Linked DNA regions of Homo sapiens. The protein of the gene in region 6 purifies or fractionates together with the protein of the main gene of each other region. This does not show direct contact. Each region holds a gene or a part of one and is shown on either strand. Other genes may lie near its edges. The genes, in order: ANO6, PRAF2, MAP2K7, CSPG5, CABLES2, DLK1 and MYORG.

Region 1 (3,714 bases), on a different chromosome or scaffold from region 6:
ATTTTTGGAGCTGGGTGACAGATGAATGCAGGCTTGCTATGATACTCTATTTCTGTATATATTTAAAATTTCCCACGGTAAATGTAAAACAAAACAAACATTCATTTGTTTAAAACTCTCACTTTTAAGGTCTAGTAGTTTTCTCAAGTAGGTGGCAAGTGCATGGGGTGTTGAGACACCATAAAAAAACAGGTACGTGGCTCCAGACAGACATGAAGTTAACTCTCCTCTCCTCGTCACTCTCCACATCCAATCCATAAACAAGTCCTGTCGACCCGACTCCCCAAACACATCCCAAATCTGCTCCCACAGTCTTCTGCCTGGCTCAAACAGCCTCCTACCTAGTGGTCTCCCTGCTCCCTGTACCCCTTATAATCCATTCTCCACATTATCTGCAAAACGTGAATAGGATACAATGACTTAAACATTTAAAATATTACAACTGCTTCTCACTGCAATTAAAGTCTAAACTCTTTTCGGCGCTCCTGCCACCCCTCTAACTTCATGTCTTGCTCTGTTTCTCACTAGCACTGGTCTCTGATGTTTCCTCAAACTTGCCAAATGTGTGTGCATCTCAGGGCCACTGTACAAGCTGCCCCTATTCCTAGAAGGACTTCTGCCAAGTCCTCAAAGCACTGGCTCCTCTTCACTATCCGATCTCAGCTTAAAAGTCACCTCCTCAAAGATAACTCCCTCAACTCACTTCCCACTCTGCCCTCCCATCCTATTGCTCTGTTATTTTCTTCACTTCCATTAGAAATTCTGTTTATTTATTTTCATGTTTTATTGGCTTGTTTGGGTGTTCTTGGTCTATCTCCCACAAGCCAGAATCCTCAGCCCTGCCCAAACAACGTAAGCTTCTGGAGGAAAACCAACAGGGTACCTTGGGAAGAAAAACTCTTGAGCTAGTCATTGTATCTTGTGAGATACAACGAAATAGAACCTAGAGGCAGACATAAGAAAAGAGTGAAAATGTACATGTCTTACCATACAATAGAAACTACATCTAACATTTACTTCTGTGCAATATGGAATTTGGTGGGTCTGCATCCCAGTTCCTGGGCGGTGGGTAACCTCTAAACCCTTGGAACTTCCTGAGAGATAGGAGTGCCTTTTTATTCACAGTGGGACCCTAGGACTACGCCTGATAGTTTATGCCAGTGAAGTGGCTCATGGTGGACCTCTAGAGAGTTTGTGCTAATGAGATGACTCAGGGTGGAGGCTGGCCATGCCAGAAGATCAACCATGTGATTGGAGAACTGGAGCTTTGAGCCACATATTACTGGCCATCTTCCAGGGGGAGGATGATACTGGAGATGGGTAATGATTCAATTAATCATGCCCACATAATTAAGCCTCAATAAAAACCCTGGCCAACGAAGCTCAGCACTCTGGGTCAGCTCCCTTCACTGGCAAGAGTCTTGATGAGTACTGTCACATTCAGATGCTGTGGGGGTAACACCCTGAGTGCCTCCCCCTGGAGTACTCCCTACAACCCCTCACCTGATAAGATCCAAGGGCTGCTTTTTGTATATGCTTCGAGGATGAGCCCATTCTCTGTACAGAAGGTACCGTTCATTAGGGCAGCTGGGATCCTCTGACTGACGGCGGAATTTGCACTGTGACGCAGAAGGGAACATGTAAGCACCATAATCATCGTGTTTTCACAAATCTGCTTCTTAAATGTGATACAAATACTTGATAGTCAATTGTGAACAAGGGGTCCTCACCTTCTGGAAAGGGTGGAAATACCATCTAATTTTTAGTGATTCTTAACCAGGCATGGTACTACCCTCCTTGGGGGTCATTTATGAATGTGGGCAGGGATGAACGATTGGGTGTTACAATCCTGGGGAGCACTGCAGGGACTCTGTGAGGGCCCCAGAGATGCTTAAAATGCTTTAAGTGGGGCAGTCCTACACAATGAAAAATTGGGCCACCCAAGTGCCCAAATCACCACACCAGAGGAACACGTGATAACCCACCCCTCTCCTTGGACAATGGGGAAACCAAGGCCTTGGCTGGTTAGCAGCAGGGTCAATTCTAAAACCTAGGCTTCTTTGCCCCCAGTTCAGCAGTTATTCTGTGATAACATACAGAAAACAAACAATAAAGCTGGGTATCATGTTACACACTTAGCTTATTCAAGAAACAAAACTTCCTGCTTAAATCCAGTTGCCTTTTTTTCTGACTCATTTTTCTTCTTCTGGCACTAGAACCAGATTACCACCCAGCCAAATCAGGGCACAGGCCCTGACCTTCACACACCTCCCTCTCAAATACCACATGGGACCATTTGTTAGCCTGAATACAGGACCACTGCAATTAGAAGAGGCTTTAGTGGAAAAGACATGGCCAAAAGCAAATGTCAACTGTTAGAGAACCCTGGCATCCCAAATTAATATTCGTGACAGCTATTTGCAAGTGGCCTCAAAATTCATGTCCTGTTATTCGCAATTAGCTAAATTCAGTGGGGCACAAAAGTAAAACACATGGACTCTCAGGCTGGATGGCTACATTGGGTCTCTTAGGATCAGTATTTACCTCACCCAGCTCCCTGTTCTCTACTTTTCCATGTGTATCAAGCTGCTGTTTAGTGTCCTAGTTTTATTATGTTATTCAGTACATTTCAATATCGTCTCTATCCACAAATACATGTACTACACAGTAGCAATTACCAATCTCAGTCTTTACTTTCTTTGGTCTTACACAGTCAGATAAATTGATAGTGAATATAACAAAGTAATAATGCAATATAATATAGTATTTAATTTATTTCAATGACAGAGTTTAAACAGCTTTAGTTATAATGTCCCTGCATTTACAGTGGTCACATTTTAAAAATTTCATTTCACGAGAGATGTTCTCGGCTAGAGAAGTACTCTTGAATTTGAGGGGTTGCTGTGGTCTCAGAATGTAGTCCTTAAAAAAATGTCAACCATCTGGGGTACTGCCATTGTCACAACAACCCTGACAGATGCCTTTTTAAAAGCCCAGGGATATTCCAGGGGACAGTTTGAAAATCGTATTCCAAATGAGGAAGAAAAGTCTATGTTGCAGAAAATGATAAATGAGAAGGTCTAACATGTATTTTGCTGACAAAGAACTAATCTTTTCTGGTTGATAATAACATCTGTTAGTAATTATGAAAACAGCTAACACTTATAATAGTATTTATTATATGCTAGGGACTAACATTTGGATTAATTTAATGGATTAATTTAATCCTCTTAACAACTCTAGGAGGTAGGTAATAATTTATCCCCAGCTTATTGATGAGGAAATGGAGGAAGAAAGGCTAAATGACTTTCACAAGGTCATCCAGCTAGAAAGTGGCAGGGCAGGCATTTTGGTCTCAGAAATGCTAACACAGATTAACTGCTAATCTATACTGCTTTACACATTAACTGTGAGAGAGGTCCTGTCCATTCATTCATTCGCTCCTTTAAAACTGAGTATCTTTATAACTGGGATCCATCTGTGAACAAAAGACCTAGTTCTTACCCTAAATGAGCTTGTAATCTTGCAGTATGTTCCCTTCATTTTACTGAGGAAGAAACTTACAGTCAGGAAAGTTAGCCCTTTGCTATTGTCAACACCAGAGTATACAGAAGGCCTTTTAGTTCATTTTTGCCTTTTAACTTACATCATGGAGTGGGAAAGCTGCCTTGTAGATCCCAGAGTTTACAAGTCTGTTGATCCCAAACTTGCTAA
Region 2 (4,184 bases), on a different chromosome or scaffold from region 6:
GGTCGCAATACTTCCAAGAACGTCAACTCTGTCATTGGTGAGTGGGAACAGCCCCTTGGTTGGGGGTACTGCATGGGGCAAAGGCCTGCAGGTTGGACCTGAAAGGATTTTAGGGCCATGTGAGGCTCAGCTTCATCATCAGTAAGGGGGACAGCACTGGGCAAAGGCCTGGAGGCAGACCCTAGGTCCTGAGATGCCTGAGAGGACTGGAGCCTGTGGCTGTGGCAGCCTCTGACCTTTTACCACCCCCCCTCCCCCAGCCATCTGCGTAGATGGGACCTTCCACAAATATGTCTTCACTCCTGATGGAAACTGCAACAGAGAGGCTTTCGACGTGTACCTTGACATCTGTGATGATGATGACTTTTAAGGACCCTGGGGGCTGTGCTAGGGACCTGCAGTGGCAGAACTGCAGAGCTGAGCCTTGGCAGTGGGGCGTGCTTGGAAGCCACCAGCCAGCAAGCATTAATGGGGCTGGTGCCCACTTTCCACTCAGCAGAGCTATGTCTAAATAAAGAGCTCACTTCCCCCCAGCACTTCTTGATGACTGTGTGCCCCAAGGGCCAGGCCAGAGACCCAGGAAGGCAGCGACCCCTTGGGATCCCTAACCTGGAGGAAATTGCCAGGGACCCAGAGGGAGTGCCCTAATCCAACCTGGGGATTTTTTAAAAGCTTCCTAGGAAGAGATGATCTCCGATGTGATGAATACGAATAAAAGGCCCTTAATGGCATTTACGGCTTGACCTCAGGGGCGGGGCATGGAGTTTCCTGGAGAAATGTGACCCTCTTGGGCGCTGACAGGAAGGAGGTGGAATCCAACTCGGATCCTTGTGACAGTCCCTCCTTTCTTATCTGTCTGGCTACTTTGTGCTTGAGCCGCTGGCACCGCCCGGAGCAGCCCCTGCGGCGCCCCGCGCGGGGGTGGATGGCAGTTTTAAGGGTTGGGAGCATCTCGCTTCGTGGCAAAGGCTTGATTTCCCGGCAGCCTTTGCTGCTTTCCTGAGCGGCGTGTTAGTTGCTTTTCCGGTCACGTGCATCGCCGCCCCTGCGCAATCCACCTAGGAGGTTAGGAAAAAGCTGCCCAGCCCAGACTCCATTTCCCGGTGTGCCCCGCGGTGGCGAGGGGCGTAACGGTTGTTGTAGTCCGGCCCCCTCCTGGCTGGTCCAGCCACATTAACCGGCAGGATGTCGGAGGTGCGGCTGCCACCGCTACGCGCCCTGGACGACTTTGTTCTGGGGTCGGCGCGTCTGGCGGCTCCGGATCCATGCGACCCGCAGCGATGGTGCCACCGCGTCATCAACAACCTCCTCTACTACCAAACCAACTACCTTCTCTGCTTCGGCATCGGCCTCGCTCTCGCCGGGTGAGGGAGGGAGGCGCCGGTTGGCCAGGGACGTCTGCAGAGCGTGGGGGTAGACCCACAGGTCTTTGAGGACCAGGACGGGGAACCTGAGGGGGGTGCAAGGCCGGGAAGGGCGAAGTCAGTAGAGATGGACGGCCTGAGGGGCTTGGAAGGGGGGCCTTGAAGGAGGTGGAGCCTAGTTATAAGGAGGGCCTCAGGGAGATGGAGCCTGGCTGATGAGGAGGGCCTGCGGGGGATGGGGGTCTGCAAGGAAGATATGGGGAGGATGGAGACAAGTGTGGGACTGAAGGGGAAAGTGGGCTGGAAGGTGAACCGGAAAAAAAGGAGGGCCCGAAAGGGGGACATGAGAGTACTTGAGGGGCGTAGGGGGGGTGTGATGTGAATGATGGGGCCAGATTGAGGCCGACCCTGGAGTACTTAGGGCAGAGACCGGGAAATAGACGGTAAAGTTGGAGGGTTTGGAAGATGTATTTATTGGGGATCCGGTCTTGGAGGGGAGCCTGGCTATGATTGGAAGGCGCCAGGGGCAGGTACCTGTTGGGGAACTTGGGCCCAGGAGGAGGATCCATGGTTGGAAAGCCTGAGACCAGAGAGGGATGGAGAATCTGGAGGAAGGACTTGAGCAGTGCTGAAAGTTCAGAGTGGGGCTGACGACCTGGAAGAGGTCCTAGCAATGATGGAGGGAGGAATCTATAGGGAAATGGGAGCCTGGAGGGCGGTTCTATAAGGACCCTAGGCCTGGGGAGAGGGGAACGTGTGAAGACAGAAGGCCTGAAAGAGGGATTTGCAGGGGCTGGTGTTAAAGGGGGAGCTTGCGGGCAGGCTGATGAGGGGCCCTACGGGGGCAGAGTCGGAAGGAAAGTCCAGGGAAGTGTTGGGAGCCCGGGGGTGTGGGGAGTGTCTAGCAGGATGGGAGGGCCTGAAGCGGGGACCTGAGGAAGACAGGACAGTGGAATTGACAAGGAGGAAAGGAGGGGTCTACAAGGGTGAGTCGGGAGCCCTGGCAGATGGGCCTGCTGGAGATAGGGCTGGTGGGAGGATGTGCCAGGCTGGAGTGTCCGGAGACGGGAGACCCTGGCTCTTGGGGCCCAGGGTGGGTGGTGGTCCGGAGGCCGTCTCTCCGCCCGGCCGGCTAGCTTGGTTCCCTTGTACCCGCAGGTACGTGCGGCCACTTCATACGCTCCTGAGCGCGCTGGTAGTGGCGGTGGCCCTCGGCGTGCTGGTGTGGGCAGCTGAGACCCGCGCAGCTGTGCGCCGCTGCCGCCGCAGCCACCCTGCAGCCTGCCTGGCCGCAGTGCTTGCCGTCGGCCTCCTGGTGCTCTGGGTCGCGGGCGGCGCTTGCACCTTCCTGTTCAGCATCGCCGGGCCGGTGCTTCGTGAGTCTCCACTACCCCGAGATAGCCAGGAAAGCAGCCAGAGCATGCTTAAGGCACCAGGCCAGCCCTGCCGGTCCCCGGGTTGAGAGGGGGCTGGGAAACCCGAGGGCCTCGCCACGCCCCCGCTAAAAGCGCCTTCCCGGGCTTCGTTCCCCCTTCTGGGAACACCCCTTTTATTATCGCCTTTCCTATCTCACTCTTGGTGTTAAGTGCCTTCCACTGGCCACGTCCCCGTTACCGGGCGTCTTCCCTGGCCATGCCCACGTTGCCAAGCCAATTACTCGGCCACGCTTTCAGTATCTGAGGCGTCCTGGCTGCTCACCACTCCATTGGCCTGCCTGCGCGCCAATTCCCTTCGGTGGGCCCCGGTTGGCTGCAGGCTGAGGTCTATTCCACTGACCACCCCTCTCGGTGCCGCCCACAGTGATCCTGGTGCACGCCTCGTTGCGCCTGCGCAACCTTAAGAACAAGATTGAGAACAAGATCGAGAGCATTGGTCTCAAGCGGACGCCAATGGGCCTGCTACTAGAGGCACTGGGACAAGAGCAGGAGGCTGGATCCTAGGCCCCTGGGATCTGTACCCAGGACCTGGAGAATACCACCCCACCCCCAGCCCATAATTGGGACCCAGAGCCCTTTCCCAGCACTTAAAACAGGAGCCTAGAGCCCCCTGCCCAAACAAAACAGGACATCTGTGACCGCCCTACCCCCACGCCAGCCCCAAACTAAGATATCCCTCACACCCAGCCCCCATTACCTAGGGACAAGAGTCTTCCCCAGCCTTGAACCCAGGACCAAGAGCCACCTACATCCAGCCCCAAAACTGGCTTCAGGCCAGAGCATCCATGGCCAATTTCAAATTGTGAACCCAGAGACACTCCCATCCACCCTTCTCCATGCTCATCCCCAAACTGGGGCCTGGGGCAAGGCACTCTCAAATCTTGAACCCTGGACCAAAGCTTTTCCAGACCCCACCCTACCTTCCAACCCAGGTCAAGACATTGCCAAATCTTGAACTCAGAACCCAAGTGTTCCATGCCCCTGTGTGGATGGAGTCGGGTATCCTGACTGTTGGACCCCTGGTCCAGGTGATCCCGACCCTCACCAGTCCCATTTGCCTCCCTCCAGCTCTGCTTAGGCATTTTGCCCCTCACCCCAATGTTCCACACCATCGACAACCAAGGGGTGAGGTGGGGACAGGCCTCAGCAGGGAATGGGGCGTATATGTTAGTGTTGCTGCAACAATAAAGCCTGTTGCATCTCTCATGCCAATTTGAGCCTCCTGGGTAAAGTCCTTGTACATTTCAAAGGACAGAAGTGGCCTACTTTTCAATTCTGCTAGACTCTTCCTGAATATGTGGGCTGAAGAGGTGATCTCTGAGGCCCTTCCTTGAACTTATGACCTCTGGATCAGCATTAAAGCACAGGGAAGGACAGGTGCAGT
Region 3 (3,714 bases), on a different chromosome or scaffold from region 6:
GGGCAGGGGGCGGTGGCAGAGGCCCCAGGGACCCTCCAACCCTCCCTCTCCTCCCAGCGCTACCAGGCAGAAATCAACGACCTGGAGAACTTGGGCGAGATGGGCAGCGGCACCTGCGGCCAGGTGTGGAAGATGCGCTTCCGGAAGACCGGCCACGTCATTGCCGTTAAGGTGAGCCTTGGCGGCTACCCCGGCTGCGCCCCACACCCCAGGCCGGTGCTGAGGCTCCCTCCTGTCCCTGCCTGTGCAGCAAATGCGGCGCTCCGGGAACAAGGAGGAGAACAAGCGCATCCTCATGGACCTGGATGTGGTGCTGAAGAGCCACGACTGCCCCTACATCGTGCAGTGCTTTGGGACGTTCATCACCAACGTGAGTACCTGGCCGCGCCCTGCAGCGTCTCCTCCTCCCTCACCCCTGCCCCTTCCTAGGGAGCAGAGCCTCTGGGGGGTGGGCCGGAAGACACAGCTCCCCCGGGTGCCCCTCTCCCTGCAGACGGACGTCTTCATCGCCATGGAGCTCATGGGCACCTGCGCTGAGAAGCTCAAGAAGCGGATGCAGGGCCCCATCCCCGAGCGCATTCTGGGCAAGATGACAGTGGCGGTGAGTGACCAGGCGGGGCTTGCACTGGGCAGGATGACAGAGGCGGTGAGTGACCAGGCGGGGCGTGCACTGGGCAAGATGACAGTGGCGGTGAGTGGCCAGGTGGGGCGTGCACCGGGCAGGTGGCCTTGGGTCTGTGCCCCCTGCCACATGCACCCCCCTCTGCGTGCCTGCAGATTGTGAAGGCGCTGTACTACCTGAAGGAGAAGCACGGTGTCATCCACCGCGACGTCAAGCCCTCCAACATCCTGCTGGACGAGCGGGGCCAGATCAAGCTCTGCGACTTCGGCATCAGCGGCCGCCTGGTGGACTCCAAAGCCAAGACGCGGAGCGCCGGCTGTGCCGCCTACATGGCAGTGAGTGGGGGCCCCCCAGCGGGGGAGGGGGTGGGGGCTGGGAGGCCGGCCCCAGCCTTGGAGATACGTCTTCTCCTCCCCCCCCTGCAGCCCGAGCGCATTGACCCCCCAGACCCCACCAAGCCGGACTATGACATCCGGGCCGACGTATGGAGCCTGGGCATCTCGTTGGTGAGTTGGGGCCCTCCCCTGTTCTCCAGCCAGGAGTGAGGGCTTCTGGGGGACTCGGAGGGAGGAGAACATAAACCTGTCCAGCCCTGCCCGTCTCCCTCCCAGGTGGAGCTGGCAACAGGACAGTTTCCCTACAAGAACTGCAAGACGGACTTTGAGGTCCTCACCAAAGTCCTACAGGAAGAGCCCCCGCTTCTGCCCGGACACATGGGCTTCTCGGGGGACTTCCAGTCCTTCGTCAAAGACTGGTGAGAACCTCCCTCCACTTGGGAGGTCAGGGACAGCCCGCTGCTCTGGGCAGCTGGGGAGGCAATGGCAGGAGGGGAATGGAGGCCGCACCCTGGGATGGGCGGATGCGACTGTGGGCGGGCTCCTGGCTGGCGGCTGCCACAGGAGCTGGAGCTGGTGCCCAGGGAGCCATGAGCTGGGTTTGGACCTAGCCTGAGGGGACAGCCAGCCCTGTGGCATTTGGCGGGGTGGCTGTTGGAGATTGTGAGCACGCTTCTGCAACAAGCACAGCTACAAGTTCAGGAGGGCCATGTTCGATTCTCTCAGGGGAGCCCCACCCACCTTTCTGGGGGACCTCAGCCAGCTCTGGCCCCCCAAGCCAGGCCCTTGCCACCTGGCCCTAGGCCAGGAGGCTCCGGGACTCACAGTTGCTCCCCGCTGTCAGCCGGGGTCCTGAGGACATCCACAGCTCCTTCCCCCACACACATCTTGGGGACCCCTGGCCCCTTGGGGAGGGCCTGAGCACAGGGGTGGGGCCGGCATCCCCTCCTCCCTCGTTCTCACATCTGTCTTCCCTTCTCTTGCTCTAGCCTTACTAAAGATCACAGGAAGAGACCAAAGTATAATAAGCTACTTGTGAGTACCTGAGCCCTCCCAGTCCCCGTCCTGTCCCTGCGGAGGCGCGAGGCCAGGAGGGAAGACCGTCTCCTCCTAAGCCCCACCCCCTCGGGCCCACAGGAACACAGCTTCATCAAGCGCTACGAGACGCTGGAGGTGGACGTGGCGTCCTGGTTCAAGGATGTCATGGCGAAGACTGAGTCACCGCGGACTAGCGGCGTCCTGAGCCAGCCCCACCTGCCCTTCTTCAGGTAGCTGCTTGGCGGCGGCCAGCCCCACAGGGGGCCAGGGGCATGGCCACAGGCCCCCCTCCCCACTTGGCCACCCAGCTGCCTGCCAGGGGAGACCTGGGACCTGGACGGCCACCTAGGACTGAGGACAGAGAGTGGGGGGTGCCCACCCACCCCCCCCGCCCCGGGCCTACCAAGCCCCCGCCCTTCCCACCCCGGGGTCAGCCGGCCGTGTGCGTCCCCCGACAGACACTGTGAACGGAAGACAGCAGGCCGCGATCAGAGTCGCTGTTCATTCAGCCGCAGCCTCTGGGCCGGGGCGGCCCCCAGGGGCCAGGAGAGAGCCCTGGAGTCCCGCAGCCACCATGCACGCTCCCAGCGTGCTGTGTCCTTCGCCACTCCCACGCGCCCGTTCCTCTTCCGTCGCCCTCTGTCCCCTGCTCTACCTCTCTGTCCTTGTCTGGCTCTCCCGTCACCCTCCCTGCCTCTGTCTCTCTTCTGGCCTGAGCCTGGGCCCAGCCACCTCCTGACGGGTCCCCTGGGTCTGCATAGGTCTCCCATGGCGCAATGAGTCAGTGGCCCCCAGCCAGGCAGTGTGGGCATTGCCACTGCGGCTGGACGGGGCTGCGCGCTCGCGCTCTCTCTCTCTCTCTCTCTCTCTCTTTGATCTCAGGGGGTCCTTTTTGGAGTTTATTGTATTTTATTGTACTTGGTGGGGTGTTTGGGGTGGGGGCGGAGGAGAGCTTGTTCTCGTGGGGTTGTCGGTACCTTCAGAAACTTTTACCAAAGTCACGATTAGCTGCTTGTGGTGGGGCCCCAACCGCCCTCGGGCACTGGGGAGCTGGGCTGGGGCTGCTGCTCTGGGGTCTCCGGGGGCCACAGCTTGGGGTGAGTTGAAGACCTCAGGGGATGTGGAGGGGTCTGCGGGGCCCTGGCCGCACAGGATGGCCTTCAGGGAAGGTGGTCTTGGGGCATGGTGCAGAGCAGGTGACCGGAGGGAATCGGTGACGGAGCGGGGCCAAGGGAGGGGTCCGGAGGGAGTCAGGGATGGAGGGCAGAGGGAGTGGATGTGGGGGTTTGAGGACGTGTGACAAGCTCCAGCAGGGGTGGGGGCCGGGCTGAGGGTGGGGGTGCGAGGTGGTCACTCCCATCGTGCCCCTGGCCGTCCCTCCACTCACCCACACCTGGCCCAGTCCACGTTGAGGTCCAGGACTGGGAAGGACCGGGTGAGTGCACCGGGGACCCAGGCCAGGTGCCCCCCGGAGCCTGCTGGGGTGGCCAGAGCAGGAGGGGGTGTGTTTCCTTTTTGTGGGTGTTGCATGCAAATCAAGTGGACAAGAAAAAATAACAAAACAAAAAACAAGAAAAAAAAAACACAAAACCCCGTAAAATCACAAAGAAAATCCAACACCAAAGGCGCAGAAGCCGGCTGGCCGTGGTGGGGGCAGCGTAGGCGTAGCATCCCTCTCCTCTCACTTAGCCTGTTGACTCTTGTTATTATCATGATATT
Region 4 (3,714 bases), on a different chromosome or scaffold from region 6:
GGAGGTCAGCCTAGGGCAACTGAGTTGGGCAGCAAAGGTGGGAATAAGCACTTGATGGTGTATCACTTATTTGACAAGCAGAATTTTCGATACAAAAGGTCTTTTTCTTTTTAAAATTTTTGTAGAGATGAGGTCTTCCTGTGTTGCCCAGGCTGGTCTCGAACTCCTGGCCTCAAGTGGTCTTCCTGCCTCAGGCTCCTAAAGTGCTAGGATTATAGGTGTGAGCCACCTGCCTGGCTGAGAAGATCTTTTTCTAGGGTTACTCATGATTTTTAGCTTCATCTAAGCTTTAGAAGTCTGATTATTGTCTTATTTTCCATATCAAGGAGAAAGGCTCTGCTTTCACTGCTGGGGAATTTCATGGTGGTCAGTGAAGCAAACGGTGGTTGCTCTTTGGGATGGGTGGAAAGACTTCTGTGTCCTTGCTGCTATTTGAGGATCCTAAGAACTGGCAGGGTTATACACAGCTGGTTAAGGCCAAGGCCCAAATACAAAACACTGGCAGAGCCTTAAGTCCAGGAGTAATCCTGTTCTTAGGAGTATGGGCTTATAAATATCAGTTGAAATCCAATAAAAGATCCTAATAGACCATTTTCTAAAGACCCTGGCCTAGTGTATTGCCTGGATTAGACTGACCAGTCAAATACTAGAGAGAATTTCAAAAACAAGGCAGAAACCATATCCAAATCTCAAATCATGCCACATCCAAATCCTAGAATTCTCTATATAATGCAGGTTCCATACTTCAAGATAAATGCATTTTTACACAGATTATTACACAGATAAGCAAGTTAAACTGAGACTTCAGACTGAAGCAATGGACTTTAAGAGGAAATTTAGAAGAAGTTCTTAGAAATCATGGACCATAGAGTGTCAGACCTCACAGGGGCCTCAGCACTCTAGACCAATACGGTCCAGTGGAACTTTCTGTGAAATGGAAGTGTTCTATATCTGCTCTGTCTACTACAACAGCCACTAGCCACTTGCGGCTGTAGAGCTCTTAACTACCACATTACACAGTGCAGACCTAGACTCCTGGGCTCAAGTGATACCCCTGCCTCAGCCTCCTGAGTTGCTAGGACTAGAGGCATGTGCCACCACACCTGGCTAATTATTTTAACTTTTGTAAAGTTGAGGTTTTGCCATGTTGCCCAGGCTGGTCTCGAACCCCTGGGCTCAAGTGATCTTCCTGCCGCAGCCTCCCAAAGTGTTGGGATTACAGGTGTGAGCTACCATGCCTGGCCTTCTTCCTTTTATAGATGGGGAAATTGCAGCCCCAGAAGGGGGAAGAGAGAATAAGAGTAAATGTGTGGCCTCATTCACAAAACCCCAGAACAGGAAATTTTGGCCTGGTAGAGGAGAAGTAAATGGGTGAATTTAAATATGAAATGAAAGAGGTAAACTTAGGATAATTTTTTAAAGTCTTTGATATAAAGGGTAGAAAAAGAACAGATTATTTCACTTGGTTTGTACCAAGATACAACAAGTAAGGTCAAGATGAACATTATAACCAAGGAAACACTATGTCTTATAAACTCTAAAATTGGTCACCATGTTCATCAACCCACAGAGGGCAGGACAGAGTCTCGGTGAGCACATTATCCCGCCCTCTGCAGTAACATGCACACAGTTACCACTTGCTGAATACTAGTGAGTGATGGTGGGCTATGGGGGCTCTCAGTTCCATTGGCTGATCTGCCATCCTGCAGATGGCAGCAGGTCTGCCAGGACGGGAGCTCCTGTAGTCAGCATGTTCACTGTCCACGGTTGGACAGAGTCCTCCCACTCTGCTTGACAGAGTGCAAGCATCCTTAGGAAAGTTTCTGACCCTTGTGTTTCTAATACCACAGCTTCAGACACCTTTCTTCTTCTCAGAGGGGGAAAAGAAAGAGCTCCTCTTGGAGGGCTTGGCTACACAGCCGGTGCGAAGGTTTCTTGTTCTTGGCTGATCCAGCTTTGTGGAAAGTGAGGCTTTTGTACCTGAACGCTGCCACTGACCCTTAGTTCAGAAGATGGCAAGCCTTGAAAACAGCAGAGCAGGGGGTGGTCAGCCACGGGAGGGTGGTGGTCGGCCACGGTGTGTGGTTGGCCACAGGCAGTGGTGATCTAGCATGGGGCTTGGGGGTCAGCCACAGGGCGGGTGAGGCTGGTCGGCCATAGTGGGCTCTGCCTGAGACAGGGTGATGGGGTGGCCAGGGCGGCACTCAAGCCATCCCTTAGGAAGCAGCAAGATCTGGCTCTGGTTCTCTCCTGGCTCCTCTTGGATCTTGAGGCTGGTGCCTTTTTTTATTGTAACCAAATACCCAGACTTCAAGGAGATTGAGGCTGGTGTCTTTCCGTCAGCTTGTGCCCAAGGGGACATCATCTTCTCCTCTCTGAAAGCACTGTGGATGTGAGGGGTGACTCTCCTATCCAGCAAGGAATGTAGTGGTGGATTTTCTACCTTCATCTCTAATTCTCTCCACCTCATCCAAAGGTCAAACTTAGTCATATTCAAGATCTTGTGGGCATTGCCGATGAACACGGTTGCCACTTGTTTGTGAAGTGAAGCCCTGCTCACTGCTACAGCCGCCACACTCACTGCCTGCAAGGGGTGCCAGCAGCCGGGGAGAGTGAGAGATCCTCCAGATGATACGGGAGGAGAGACAAGGGGGCGCCGGAGTCCAGCCTGCCTCGTGGCTTCTCCCCACCCCTCTCTCCCCACCCCCAAACTCCTTGCTGGTATTGGTTTTCTCTAAAATTTTGGAGAGTTTTATTTATTTGCATCGAGGTGTTATTTCTTTTACATACGTAAAATAGATTGAGCAGGTCATTTTCCTACACTGTCGCAATCACCTCTACCAGCCACACTCTGAAAAGATTGCAAGCAAAAAAGTCTGGGGCTTTGGGCCTGTGACAGGGAAGGGTCAGTGGCTGGTATCTGTGCCGGTGGCACCTCTTTCCCTCCTCTGCTCCTCTCTGCCCTCAGGCTGATGTGCGGCTCTGTAGCTGGTGGGCCTTAGGCTGAGTCTGTGTGAGTGTCTTGCGTAGCTGAGCAACCAGCCTTGAAGGGTATGTCAGGAGGCACAGAGAATGTAGGAAGCTGCCCGTGCTCCAGGCACACTGCGTGAATGAAGCCACCAGAAACCCAGGGCAGCTGCCCCAACACTGGGCTGCCCTGATGGTCCTCACAACGGTGCTGTCGAGACCATGGGGGTAACTTGGGTTGTGCTAAGATTTGACAGACCTTCCGGGATTTCAGTTTATTCCTAGGATTTCTCCATTGATGTTCCTGTGCTTTTTTTTTTTTTTTCCTATTTAACTCTTTCCTACTCTCCAGACTCTTCTCTTGCATGTATTTGTTAAAGCACTGACTGCCCACCCTCTTCCAATAGATGTTTGCCTCTGGCCAGGCCTGAACCCACATGACCCCTGGGTTGAAGGGTGCCCATACTGCTGGGATTGAATGCTGGGAGCAGTGAGTCCACAGTGGTTCCTAGGAACTTATGCCAGATGTTGATCCAGCTCCCTTGTGATGAGGTACTTCTATTAAGTCAAAGGCAGTTGGACCTGCTGTGGAATTCAGCTACCCTTGGCTTAATAGGATCAAGTTCTGGAGCAAACACCTGAGTTAGGAGAGCCCCATCTTGGTGTAGACATTCCTTTGCCTCTTGTGTTTGTTGGAGGTATTCAGCTTGTCTAATAGCACTGTTTGCATATCTCTTGCTTTTGGGA
Region 5 (4,414 bases), on a different chromosome or scaffold from region 6:
GAGGTACTGAACAGTGCAGCTGGGATTCCAAGCCAAGTCTGTTCCCAGAGCCCAGGTCAAACCACCACACTCACAAGACCAACATCAGGGCTGCCTTCAGGACTTTCAGAATTCTCTCCATTTCCTGAAACCAACTCATCCTAGAACTCTCAAGCCAGGAGCTAGCAGCCCCTTTTGCCGGGGCAGCCACCCTTCCCTCGATCAGCAGCCAGGCCCAGGGAACGCAGGGTGAAATGGACGTCCTCACGCTGGGGTCTACCTATCAGGGAGGGGCCATGGCCCTCAGAAACAAGGTCAGCACCACGAACTTGGCAGCAGAGCCCCAGGAGGGACGCCTCCCCCTCCAGGAACAGAGTGGGGTTCAGGAAAGACCTGAACAGGGACATGGGGGCCAAGGAGGAGGGAAGGGAGGAGACAGCCCTGGGCAAGGCAAGGGGTGGTGGCGCTTGGGCCCATGGTGGGTACGGCAGGAGGACTGCAGGCACCCAGCCCATGCCACGTCCCATCCTGTCCCAGGGATGCCGGCCACAGCGCACCTTCTAACAATCCCACAGGGCAGGGATGTGCTGCACGTGGGCAGCATGCTGCGCTCAGAACTGTCACCATGGAGGCTCTGGGCCTGCAGGGGGTGCCTTCTCAGTCACAGGCACTTCCCTGCGCGTCGCCACGCTCTGCCTCCCTCCACTCAAGTGGGCTCCACTCCACGCCAGGCCTGGTGCACACAGGGGTGCATGAACTCTGTGGAAGGAGGGCCTATGACAGCACCCAGTCTGCCTGGTGTCACCATCCGGTTCTGGACACTCAACATGCAGGACTGAGGGAGAAAGCTGTTTCCATGTCAAACAACAGGGCCCGGGGTTAGGGAAAAGCCCACCACACCTGCGGAGCTCGGCCCGTTGGGGTGAGCCCGCTTCCCCTGGAGTCCACACCTTAGGGCCTTGCCGCTCTGCCCTGGAGAGTCACCACCTTGTTCCATCTCTCCCGCCTTCCTGAAGGAGCTGGCCATGCCAAATGCATGGGGCCTGGCTGCCACATTTGGGCAAATCCATCCCTCTGCCCCAATCATCCCTCTGACCCTCCCTGGAGCAGCGGCCAGGCATGTCCGTGGGGGGACATCTTGTGGACAGGCCTGGGTCTGCAGGCACCCTCAGCCTGGCTACGGCCAGGAACACTTCCAAGGATGGAGTGCACCGCGACCTGCGTGTGACGCAACCTGCATGTGACGTCATAGTCTTTGAGGACAGAGTGCTGTGTTCTGGGCCCAAACTTCCCCAACCAAAGACCTTAGAGGAACCCAATGCCTCCACCTGCCCGAAGGCCAGGGGCGTGGGGCAACTCTGATGACCTCCAGGTAAGCAAGGAGCACGTGCCAGCCTTGACCCAAGAGCTCTGTGTCGGCCCCTTTGCTGCACACCTGCAGGGGCTGCCTCTGGGAACAGCCGCCCAGCAGGCACTTGGACCTGTGGACAGTGGCTCCCTTTGAGAAGGAACCGCAACAAGCAGCCAGTCCTGGGCCCAGAGCCCACAGTCACTCCTGGAGGTGAGGGCTGTGGGAGGCAGGGTCACCCAGGTCCTGTGGTCTCTGGGAGAAGGACACAGGGTGTCGGGCAGCCAGGGGCCATCTGGGCAGGGGGCACACGCTGGACAGGCAGGGCTCATGGTTGGGGTTGCCCTGGGATGGGCTGAGGTGGTTCCCAGAAATGGAATCAAGGCAGGGGGAGCAGTGGAGACCCAGGGTGTGACAGACCCAAAGATACCGAGCTGAGAGTGATGTGGGGAAGGGCGGGGCTCAGCAGGGAAGTGACAGGGAGAGGAGGGGTGCCAGAGACCAGTGGCTGTGGGATGGGAGATGTGGCTGTGCAGGGGCCTCTGGGAACAGGTGTCAGTGACAGTGCCAGGAGGACCCCGGCCCACATGCTGGGTCTGAGGAGGTGGGCATGGACGGTGTGGCCCGGTTCAAAGAATGCGAAGAGATGCACAGGGCTGTCCATGTGTCCCTGTGTCCCGGGCACTGGTACCAGTGGATGGGGGTGGGGGCATGTCCAGAACCCACAGGGCTGGGGGTCTCAGGGGTAATAAGGGCTGAACCCTAAAACCCATTTCAGAGCACTGACAACGTGGAGATCCAGACCCCGTATTCAGGGGCTGGGAGAATTCAGGGGACAATGAACCCTATGTGTGGGGGGTGACAGGGCCTGAGGAAACCCTCAGCCAGCCCAGGAACCCCCAGTTCTGTATCCAGGACTGACAAGGTCCCAGGTGAACCCAACCCCTGTGTCCTGGGCTGATGAGGGCCCAGACTGACCCTGACCCCTGTGTCCTGGGTTGACAGGGGCTCAGGTCACCTGAACCTCTGTCCAGGGCTGACAAGGCCCCAGGTGAACCCAACCCCTTTGTCCTGGCCTCTGTCCAGGGCTGACAAGGCCCCAGGTCACCTGACCCCCTTGTCCTGGGCTGATGAGGCCCCAAGTAATCCTGACCCCTAGTCCTGGGCTGATCCGGCCCCCGTCCCCGTCCCTGTACCCCGCGTCCTGGGCTGACCTGGCCGGGCCCCCACTCACCTCTGGCGCTGCCCATCCAGGCCGAGGCCGGTGGGCACCTGCGTGGGGCTGAGCAGGCCCTGGGGCGCGGGGGTCCTGGCGGGCAGCCCGGTGGGGGGCTCCGGCGGCGGCGGCGCTGGCGGTTCGCGGGCCTCGGCGGGCGGCGGCGGGGGCTTCTCTCCGCCCGGGCCCAGGCTCGGGGGCCGCCCGTCCAGGGAGATGTTGTTGAGGAAGAAAAGCGCGGCCTGGCGGCGCCGCGAGTCCCCGCGCCTCCGCAGCGCCTGCGGCGGGGCCCGAGCGGCCGAGGTCGGCGCGGCGGGTGGCGGGGGCCCGGCGGGGCCGGGGGCCGGGCCCGGGGCTCCACCGGCCGCGGCCGCGGCCATCCTCAGACTGCGCCCGCCGCCGCGAAGCGCCCCACCCCCTGCCCGCGCGCCCGCGCGCCCGCCGCCCATTGGCCGCGGCGCGCCCACATGCAAATGTATCGCCGTCGCGCTCTCCCATTGGCCAGCGAGGTGCCGCGCTCAGGGCGCTCCCCTGGGTCCTAGAGGCGGTCGGACGCAGCAGCAGGGAGTCGGGAGCTGCGCGCCTCCCCGCCGGTTCGAGTCCCCGTCTTGGGACCTGCGGCCGCGGGGCTCTCGCTTTCTGTTCCCTTTGCTGTATGGCGGCCTTCGCGGATGGCCTCCATCGAGCGCACATTTTAAGGCTCCGGACCCAGGGCGGCGTGGGTGAGGCCCCAGCACACTTCCCTGTCCGGAGGTGTGTCTGGGCGGCGCTTCAGCGGGCGCAGGGCGGCCCCTGGAGGAGCCCCACCGCTTCCCGGAAGGGCCCGCGTGCCATCTGGCCTCCTTCATTGACAGAAGGGAACGAGGGTCTGAGTGGAGAAGGCACCTGCTTGGGATCAAAGCCCCAGGCAGAGTCCTGCACTTCCTGCAGTAGCAAAGTGACCTTGAGCCTGCCTTGTGCCCAGGCCTGTTTCCTCTCTGTGCCTGGGTGCCCCTGACTTCAGAACCTGTGAGCCCGTGGCACCGGGATGGTCAGGGCCTGCCTCTGGAGCCCGGGAGCCTGTCTGCAGTCTGGAGGGGAACCCGCTGTATCTTTGTGGAGGGACTCAGGACCTTGCACCCACCTCTGTGTCACCTGCCTGCTCTGTCCAGCTTTCTTTCATGGGTTTACGTATCTTTAAAGAGGGGACAATGATTTCAGCCTCAGGGTACTGTCAGGATGAAACTGGCTCAGTGAGGGGGTCGGGCTGTGGCCGGAGGCCAGGCACATGCAGTGGTCAGTCCGCGAATGCGCTGCAGTACCTCGCACCTGCCCGCATGCGCCCAGCCTCTCCTGTGCTGGGTGCTGGGGACCCGGTGGGACCGACAGGCACAGCGCTGGCCCTAGGAGCACCTGGTGTGTGGGGAGGCAGCATGATGGCCAACAAGGCAGTGGGCGAGTGGGCAAGACAGGGTCTTCATCACCACCCCTAGCATGGGCCCCTGCCCTTCAGGCCCCTACCCACCTCCCGCCTGCCTGCTCCCTCCTGTGGGCCTTCACGGGCCACCATTGGGGCTCACGCAGCATGCAGCACCTCCATTTCCTTTCCCTCCGCCCTTCCAAGTTGGCCTCCAAGGCCTCTGCCAGGCCTAGGGGAAGGTGGGCAGCTGTCCTGTCTAGGAGAACGCGGGGCTGGGTGGCATAGCAGAGGGGTGGCTGCGGATTCTGGATCCACAGAATGGGGTGCTGACTTGTGTGCCTGGGGGCTCCCGTGAGCGGGGAGTGAGTGTGTCCAGCGCTGTAGGGTGCTGAGGCTGGGGCAGGCACACAGTGGGCCCTCCATCCCTGCTGGCTATCACCAGGAGGAGGGGCCTGACAGGGGAGGGTGGGCC
Region 6 (4,292 bases):
GCACTGTGAAGAAGGGGAGGCCGCGAGCTGGGTGGGCACCCACTCCCTGCATCTAGGATATGTATGCAAATTAATATATGCAAATTAAGTATCCTAAACGACCCACCCAAAGATTGGGACGCCTGGGACCCTTCCCCCAGGAGGTGAAATATCTTTAATCCCCTCCTACCCCTCTCCCTCCCTATCTTTCTGAGCCTCCCCCATCCAGACTGGGTGCAGGGGTGCAGAGCTTTCCTCTCCAGCAGGGCTCTAAGCCTAAGCCGGGGGCAATGGGGAGGAGGGGTGTCTGAGGAGCACTCCCTCTCCCTGGGAGCTCTGCAGAGGAAGAGGGTCTCTGGCAATCAGCATCCTCTACCTCCACCTCTCCAGCGGGCGACCCCTCAGAGAAGGTCTCCCAGTGAGTCTGGAATACGTGCCGAGTGCCTGGAGTGCTATTGTGTGTATGTGAGAGCACATTGGTGAGGCTGCCCATGCATGCCACTGTGGACAAAGACAGATGCGATCGTGTGTGTGTGGGGACTGCGTATATGTTTTTGTCAGTGTGTGTGACCACGAGTCAGCTGGGTATGTGTGCTTGTGGGTATCAGGTGCATGGCTGTGCGTACATGTGTGCGTAAGAGTCGGTGCATTTGTGTTTCAGCGCGGCTAAGGCCCTGACTGAGATGCTGTGTGTGCGGGGGTGGGTGTGACTGAATGCGGGCACGGGTGTCCGTCTGTTTATACGTGTGTTTGCGTGTTTGGGTGTGCAGGTGGCTCTGCGTAAGCGTCTGTGTGCAGGGGGTCGGCACATGGGGGAGGATGCCCATGGTTGGGTAACCGCAGGTCCGCTTGACCCTCTGCCACCTAGGACTGTGTCTATACGGCGTCTGGGCTACAGTGTGTTTGAGTTGCCGTGTGCGTTTCCGTTGCGGGGTGTGGGTTGCCACGGGGCAACTGCATTTTTCTGCGTCTTCATGGCCAGGGGTACAGGGGGCGTCGGGCTTTTCCTGGGGGTTTTTCTGTGTGCGTGTGTAATTATGTGCTTAGTTCACATCTTCATAGTGCGCCTTTGTGTTTTCCTGGGTATCTAACCATTGCACGTGTGCCCGGGACTTCAGCGATAAGTGTTTCGGTGTTCCTGCGTGCGGATTTGTGCTCTCCGGGGAGGTCTGCGGCCCAGGTTCGATTCCTGCGACTTGTCCTAGGCAGGCCTGTATGTGCGCGGCGGCCGCGTGCTGTACAGTGTGAGGGAACGTGTACCAAACGCTCGCGGGATACCTGTGCCCGTCTAGCCAAGAGTGCACCCGTGTGCGCGAGCGGGCTTCTGGGACGCCGCCGTGGTCGGGGGCGGCCCTGCGAGGGGAGGGGGTCACAGGGACTGGCCGGCGCCGGCCCCGTGCGCACGGAGGCGGGGGCGGGGGGCGGGGGCCGCGAGGGGGGAGGCGGTACGAAAAGGGCGGCGCGCGCGGCGGCGGCGGCAGCTCCCCGGCAGCGGCGGTGGAGAGCGCAGCGCGCAGCCCGGTGCAGCCCTGGCTTTCCCCTCGCTGCGCGCCCGCGCCCCCTTTCGCGTCCGCAACCAGAAGCCCAGTGCGGCGCCAGGAGCCGGACCCGCGCCCGCACCGCTCCCGGGACCGCGACCCCGGCCGCCCAGAGATGACCGCGACCGAAGCCCTCCTGCGCGTCCTCTTGCTCCTGCTGGCTTTCGGCCACAGCACCTATGGTGAGTTCCCCGGCGGCCCGGCTCGCGCCCCCTCTGGGGAAGCCTGCGACTCCCCGCCGGCCGCCCGGTGCCCCGCACGCCCCGTCTCGTGAGCCCCAACTCCGCCCGTCCCGCCTAGCCCTAAGCCCCGCGCTGTGCCTGTCTCGCCCTACCCACCACGCTCGCATGCCAAGGCCCGTCCCAGGGGTCCCAGGGCGCAGGGGATGTGTGAGACCCCCAGCCCCTTCCCGCCCTGCAGAAGTGGCGCCAGAGGGGTGTCGGTGCGCTGAGCAAGGAGGTATGGAAAAATGGGGTGCTGTTGTGGAGTCTTCTATGAAAATACTCTGGGGTGCAACTTTGGGGTGTCCCTGTGTGAGCGTTCTGGAACAGGTCTCGGGGCGGGAGTGGGGGACGACTTTGCCGTCTTAGCCCCCAATTCCCAGAGAAGCCCAGCCTGAGCCCTTCCTGCGTGGCGCGTTTCTGTAGGTGAGGGGCTGCGACACTTCTGTCTGCAGCGGCCATCTGTCTCTGACAGCGAGAGAGTTGCCCCCTTCCTGCAGCGCCCCCCCACTCATTGCACCAGTGGTTGTAAGGGGGCTGTCTAGAAAGCTGGGGAGCTGGTTGAGTAAATGCACACAGTAGGTGCCTGTTAAAGTGTCAGAATCTCTAAGCAGTGTTGTTGCAACCTCAGCCCGCTAAGCAAAACCCTGTGTCGTCATCGTTTTTTTAATGCGAAGAGTCTGGGGTAGGGGAAAGAGGGAAGATTTGACCTGGGTGCCCGGCTTAATAGGGATGAACCTTAAAAAGAATGCAGACGCCTTACTGGGGCGCCCACCAGGTGAACCTGTCTGGGCTTTCCCGGAGTTGAACACCTCAAAATCTGCTCCTCTTTTCAGCTCAGGTTGCAAAAGTGACGGTCAGGCTGCATGCCCAGGGCTCAACATATTTCCCTCCACGGTCCCCGTCCCCGCTGTTAGGAGGACTTGAGGTGTCGTATTTGCTTTTGGGAGTCCGAGGAGAAGGTGTTTCTCCTGCTCCTAAGAACGAGGGAGAGTGTACTGTGGTCATTTCATTGCTGGGAACGTGGCAGAGATGTTTTTCCTGAGTGCACTGAGCCCCATCCATGCTCGGATAGGAAGTGCCTACTGTGTGCCAGGCTGGTAGGACCCAAGAGGGCTGTTGGTGCCCTCGAGGGCAGTGGTGGGCTGTGTGGGCGAAGACAGCCTTTGCCTTGGCCTGGGGCCTGGTGGGGTGAATTGTATAACCTTTCTTGTACCTCAGGGGCTGAATGCTTCCCGGCCTGCAACCCCCAAAATGGATTCTGCGAGGATGACAATGTTTGCAGGTAATAGAGTGGCTCCTCAGAGGCAGCTTGTAGGGGCCACGCAGAAGCCTGGGGAGTCGTGAAGTCAGGCAGAAAAAAATAGGGGGCTTGGCCACTACGCTGCAGCAAACAGCTTCCGGGCCCCTGCAGAAAACTGGTGGGGCGAGCTGGGGAGATGGGGGGGGCGGGGGGGGGGCAGCCACAGCTCCTGTCTGCGTTCTCAGAGGTGGGGGGGCAGGTGGGACCACTGCAGGCCACTGCGGCAAAACGCAGCACTCCCCCGGGATCTCGGGGCCCCTCCAAGTCGGCCCCCTCAGCTTGGCATGTTTTCTCTTTAAGTTTTCCCATTCAGGTGGCTGGTGTTTACTTCCCAGGACCACCGGCTGCCACTGTGCAAAGACCCCCAAGGGTCCTTGGTTCCACAGAAAGTAGCCTGAGCTGCCTCTCTACCCCTGCCCTCTTCATATGTCCCCACCTTTCTCCCCCACCCATTGCAGGTGCCAGCCTGGCTGGCAGGGTCCCCTTTGTGACCAGTGCGTGACCTCTCCCGGCTGCCTTCACGGACTCTGTGGAGAACCCGGGCAGTGCATTTGCACCGACGGCTGGGACGGGGAGCTCTGTGATAGAGGTTGGCACTCGCCTTTGTTCACCTCAGCTCTGCGTCCTTACCTGCCTGCCCTAGCCCCTACCACCTCCTCCCAGTCTCCTGTTGCTGGTGTTCCTCACTTCCTCATTCCTGCACACTCCGTGCCCTGTATTCTAAAGATCTGTTTATAAATTTCCTGTGGGTACCGAATGCCTCCTCAGAGGTAGGGACTTTATTTTGCTCTTCTCTGCGCCATCAGCACCCAGCACCTAGAGGGAACATGGCGTGGGGGCCAGGGAGCTGCCTGTTGAATAAAGAGTCACAAAATACACATACAGCTGGGCCGGTGGGACCACAGACCCCAGGCTGCCTGTCCAGGTCATGGAAGCCCAGTGATGGACAGGGCTCTGGGGATCTCAGAGCTAAGACTCCCTAGAAAAGCACACGCAAGACTGTAAAGAGGCTGCAAACAAACAAACGGGGTGGGGGGTGGCCAGCACTGCTCAGTGGTTGAGGGGCAGGTGCTGAGTCAGGGCCAGGAGGACAGGGCTGGGGGGCCTGGACTGAGTGGGTCAGGTGTAGGGGGAGGCTGCAGTTGGGAAAAGCTGAGAAAGGGTTAAAGTGAAGATGGGTGTTATCTGTTGATTTCATTAATTTATGCAATCTTTGCCTCCATTACCCCAAGCAATTGAGAGTTGGCTGTC
Region 7 (3,714 bases), on a different chromosome or scaffold from region 6:
CCTAAGATGGACAAAGATGGCCACGAAAGCCAGGAGGGGGAGGTTTCTCTTTGTGCTTTTAAACCCCAACCATGTATAACCATGTATAACAGGAAGAGAGCTGACCTTTTTCCTCTAAGCTCTCTGGCTTCCACCCCAGGGAAGAGGTTTCTGCAGATTGGTGTGAGTGTGGGGGTGGAAAGGGCACAGTAAGGATTGTGCGTTGGAGCAGGAGATTGCTTCAGTGCCCCCTCCCTAGGCCCCACCTTCAGCAGCTGGTTCCAGCACATTTAAGTCAGCAGCCACTTAATGGGTGGTATAGAGGTGGGAGGTTCCTGGGAGTACATGGTGCGGGTGTGACGGAGGGTTCAAGGTCTGCATGAAGACTGGGGGCTTTGCGGTTACCGGGCCCTGGGCTGGGTCAGGACGCCCAGGTAAAGTAGGCGATCTCATCCAGGTCGACCGGGTAATCGGTGAGCAGCACCGGCGTCTTGTCGAAAAGCTCACCCTTGTAGCTGCGCCACTTGCCGGCGGGCAAATAGACGTCGCGCTCCTGCTTGCCTGGCTCCAGCACCGGGGCCACAAGCAGCGTGTCCCCAATAAGGAACTGCGAGTCGATACGGTGAGCTGTCTCGTCGCCGGGCGCAATCCACCAAAGGGGGCGCACGATAGGGTCACCCGTGTCGGTGACCTCGCCCGCCAGCTCAAGCAACAGCGGTGCCACAAGCGAGGCCCGCAGGGCGGCGAACTTCTGCGCGATGGCCACCACTTCCGCGTCGTAGCGCCAGGGCGGGATAGAGAACTGCATGGCCGGCATAAAGGCGGCCACTTCCAGCCAGCGAATGTAGAGCTCGCGCTCGGGCACATCGCCGCCGGCTGTCCGCTGGGGCACGGCGTTGCCGCCCACCATATCGGGTAGGATGAATGGGTAGCCCAGCATGCTGACGGTGAGCACCGCGGGGATGAGTGAGCGCAACCCCAGGTCGTAGCCCCACACAGAGTCGCGATCCACCAGGCGGAAGAAGCAGGAGATGTTCTGTGACTGGTAGCCTACGCGCACCTCCGCCAGCGAGAAGAAGGGCAGCGCCATCTCAGTGTAGCGCCGGCTCCAGACGCTGGGGTCCGGCAGCGGCCGGTAGGTGCTGAAGTCCCGCGGCAGGTAGCTGACCTCGCCCGCGTCGAACTTGAAGGAAGCCACGGAGTAGCGAGAGCGCAGCCGCCGCAGGTGTCCCTGGAACCAGTCGCGGGCCTTTGGGTGCGTGAAGTCTAGCACCGCGCCGATGCCGTTCCACCAGCGCACCAGCGCAGGTAACCGGCCCGTGGGTTCGCGCACGAACAGCTCGCGCTCCACGCCCTCGCCGAAGCGCGACGAGTTGTAGTTGACAAAAGGGTGCACCCAGAGCGTGACGCGGAAGCCGGCGTCGCGCAGGCGGCGGAACATGTCGCTGGCGTTGGGGAATTTGACCTCATCGAAGTCGAAGTCGCCATAAGCAGGTGTGTACATGTCGTCGATTTCCAGGTGGCTGCTGTTGAAGTGGTGCAGGCGGATCTGTTGGGCAAAACGCAGCACCTTGTCCTGGTCCACGGCGCGCCCGTACAGCGCCCATGTGGACCAAATGGGGTCTCGGAAGGCCTCGGGTGCTGGCACCCTTGACGGCTTGTTGAAGTAGCGACGCACCATGTACTTGTGGATGGAGGTGACGTCTGAGCCCACGCACACTCGGTAGCTCAGCTCTGGCGCTGCGGCGCGGCCGGCGGGTGGCTTGTAGGGCGTGTCGTGGTAGCGCGCCTGAAGCCGCAGCGAGCGCTCCGTGCTGTTCCAGCCCAGGTGGAAGGGCACTGAGTCATTGACTTTGATGGCGGCCGCGCGCGAAGATAGCCAGTAGCGCTCGAGGATGCCCCCAAACGCGGCGTCGGAGGAGTAGACATCGCTGGTGACGAACGGCTGGGGCTCCTGCTGGCCATCCAGGCGGATGGGCCAGTGTTGCGTCCTCATCTCGGCGCCACCATACCAGTGGGCCGCCGCGTCGCCCAAGAACATGGCGTGCTCCACGGCCCGGCCCGGCGCTGCCTCCTCCCAGCGCACGCGGTAGCACATGACCGTGTCCTTGGGCCGCACAGTCTGGATGAAGAAGTGCAGCGGCAGCCCGTCGGCCGTGAGCGAGCAGCCCAGCAGGGCGCCATCGCGGCTGCAGGAGTCAAGGTCCAGCGCGCCGGAGCGGAAGGCCAGGCGGAAGACCTGCTCTCCCTTCTGATTGCGGATGGAGAAGCCGCCAGCTTTCAGGTCCAGCAGCTCCGCGCGAAGTCGCTCCGCCTTGCGTAGGGAGACGCTGTAGTAGCACCAGGCCACCACCGCGGCCAGCACAAGCAGCAGCCCCAGAACCGCGGAGCCCAGCAGCGGCTTCAGGTCTTTGGAAGGCTTGGGCTTGGCAGGTGAGAAGTTGTCGGGCAGGAAGGTGTACATAGCTGCGGCTGCGATGGCCTCGGGGTTCTGACGGTATGCGTAGCAGCCAGGCCGGCGGCGGCGGGGGTAGGCCTGGCTCTTCTCCTGAGGGTTCTGGAGCATTAGTGGGCTGCTAAGAAAGGAGCGGGCCGTGGGGCCATCTGACTGAGTTCATCTCAACCTGCTCTGAAAGGAGGAGACAGAGATGGAACTGAGCTATCTCATCCCATGATATTTCCATTTGCTGCCGCAAGCTAAGAGGAGGTGTATACTTTGGGAAGATGAATACTGGAACCTGAGGGCTTGAAGAGTGGCAAAGGTGAGACCCTTACCAGGACAATCTGTGCCTAACCCACCCTTTCTCATGGGACCTAATGCTTGCCCAAATTAGGACTCTGTGACTGGGGAGCGGCCCATGTGACTGGGAGATGGCACCCATCCTCATTTTCCTAGTGGAGAAACAAACCCTGAGAGGGTCAGGAAGCTTTCCAGGATCACAGGATAAGCCAGGCCTCCCCAGATCACACATGGGGCCGTTCGGGCTGAAGAGACGGGAAAGGAACTAGAAAAGTCCTGCTCTCCTAGAGGTGTGGATGGTCAGGGTGGGAGAGGGGGTATTGTCCAGCCAGCTCCTTGAGACTTTTTTTTTTGAAATGGAGTCTCTCTCTGTCACCCAGACTGGAGTGCAGTGGCATGATCTCAGCTCACTGCAATCTCTGCCTCTTGGGTTCAAGCGGGTCTCCTGCCTCAACCTCCCGAGTAGCTGGGATTAAAGGCGCACACCACCACACCTAGCTAATTTTTGTATTTTTGGTAGAGACAGGGTTTCACCATGTTGGTCAGGCTGGCTTCGAACTCATGACCTCAAGTGATCCACCTGCCTCAGCCTCCAGAAGTGCTGGCATTACAGGCGTGAGCCACCTCGCCCAGTCCCCCTTGAGACTTTTAACAGGGCGGTAGGCTAGCTTCCCTGTCCCCAGAGGGGGAGAGGAGGGAGGAAGGGAGAACAGCTCAGGGATGTGTTTTTATCCTGAGTCAAAAGCCTGATGAAGTCTGGAGATTGAAGAAGACACCCAAAGCCAGACTTAGTCCCAGGGCCTGGTTTGGAGGGAGGTAGAGTTGGGTTCAGACATTAGGGCCTGGGGCAGGAGCCTGGCATGGGGGGCCAGTTGTTTCTCACATCTGCTTCTCTTTGCCCTCAAACTCACCCTGCTCTCAGCCATCATCCATCACCAAATCCATTTCCATGCCTGCCTTCCTGCTTTGCTCCTGGCACCACATCTGTGGGCCAG

The links.
Region 1: the proteins of DLK1 (region 6) and ANO6 purify together in Homo sapiens (affinity purification with mass spectrometry; 3 studies listed by BioGRID and IntAct, with this or other methods). This does not show direct contact.
Region 2: the proteins of DLK1 (region 6) and PRAF2 purify together in Homo sapiens (affinity purification with mass spectrometry; 4 studies listed by BioGRID and IntAct, with this or other methods). This does not show direct contact.
Region 3: the proteins of DLK1 (region 6) and MAP2K7 purify together in Homo sapiens (affinity purification with mass spectrometry; 4 studies listed by BioGRID and IntAct, with this or other methods). This does not show direct contact.
Region 4: the proteins of DLK1 (region 6) and CSPG5 purify together in Homo sapiens (affinity purification with mass spectrometry; 3 studies listed by BioGRID and IntAct, with this or other methods). This does not show direct contact.
Region 5: the proteins of DLK1 (region 6) and CABLES2 purify together in Homo sapiens (affinity purification with mass spectrometry; 4 studies listed by BioGRID and IntAct, with this or other methods). This does not show direct contact.
Region 7: the proteins of DLK1 (region 6) and MYORG purify together in Homo sapiens (affinity purification with mass spectrometry; 4 studies listed by BioGRID and IntAct, with this or other methods). This does not show direct contact.

Annotation. Positions count from the first base shown.
Region 1 is NC_000012.12:45,348,564-45,352,277, reverse strand, and holds part of ANO6 (anoctamin-6), read right to left. Parts: coding exon 3,647-3,714; intron 1,620-3,646; coding exon 1,504-1,619; intron 1-1,503. UniProt on the Homo sapiens protein: Small-conductance calcium-activated nonselective cation (SCAN) channel which acts as a regulator of phospholipid scrambling in platelets and osteoblasts.
Region 2 is NC_000023.11:49,070,989-49,075,172, reverse strand, and holds PRAF2 (PRA1 family protein 2), read left to right. Parts: upstream 1-1,170; 5' UTR 1,171-1,185; coding exon 1,186-1,364; intron 1,365-2,522; coding exon 2,523-2,740; intron 2,741-3,164; coding exon 3,165-3,304; 3' UTR 3,305-4,012; downstream 4,013-4,184. Other genes in the region: WDR45 (WD repeat domain phosphoinositide-interacting protein 4), read left to right, coding at 1-37, 261-370. UniProt on the Homo sapiens protein: May be involved in ER/Golgi transport and vesicular traffic. Plays a proapoptotic role in cerulenin-induced neuroblastoma apoptosis.
Region 3 is NC_000019.10:7,910,203-7,913,916, forward strand, and holds part of MAP2K7 (dual specificity mitogen-activated protein kinase kinase 7), read left to right. Parts: intron 1-57; coding exon 58-171; intron 172-250; coding exon 251-370; intron 371-493; coding exon 494-601; intron 602-777; coding exon 778-957; intron 958-1,047; coding exon 1,048-1,128; intron 1,129-1,212; coding exon of another isoform or gene 1,213-1,233; coding exon 1,234-1,376; intron 1,377-1,946; coding exon 1,947-1,992; intron 1,993-2,094; coding exon 2,095-2,229; 3' UTR 2,230-3,714. UniProt on the Homo sapiens protein: Dual specificity protein kinase which acts as an essential component of the MAP kinase signal transduction pathway. Essential component of the stress-activated protein kinase/c-Jun N-terminal kinase (SAP/JNK) signaling pathway.
Region 4 is NC_000003.12:47,565,260-47,568,973, reverse strand, and holds part of CSPG5 (chondroitin sulfate proteoglycan 5 isoform 1 precursor), read left to right. Parts: intron 1-3,714. UniProt on the Homo sapiens protein: May function as a growth and differentiation factor involved in neuritogenesis. May induce ERBB3 activation.
Region 5 is NC_000020.11:62,404,354-62,408,767, forward strand, and holds the start of CABLES2 (CDK5 and ABL1 enzyme substrate 2), read right to left. Parts: upstream 2,933-4,414; 5' UTR 2,924-2,932; coding exon 2,562-2,923; intron 2,542-2,561; exon of another isoform or gene 537-2,541; intron 1-536. UniProt on the Homo sapiens protein: Unknown. Probably involved in G1-S cell cycle transition.
Region 6 is NC_000014.9:100,725,437-100,729,728, forward strand, and holds the start of DLK1 (protein delta homolog 1 isoform 1 preproprotein), read left to right. Parts: upstream 1-1,455; 5' UTR 1,456-1,632; coding exon 1,633-1,699; intron 1,700-2,959; coding exon 2,960-3,023; intron 3,024-3,499; coding exon 3,500-3,630; intron 3,631-4,292. UniProt on the Homo sapiens protein: May have a role in neuroendocrine differentiation.
Region 7 is NC_000009.12:34,370,399-34,374,112, forward strand, and holds part of MYORG (myogenesis-regulating glycosidase), read right to left. Parts: intron 2,609-3,714; 5' UTR 2,546-2,608; coding exon 401-2,545; 3' UTR 1-400.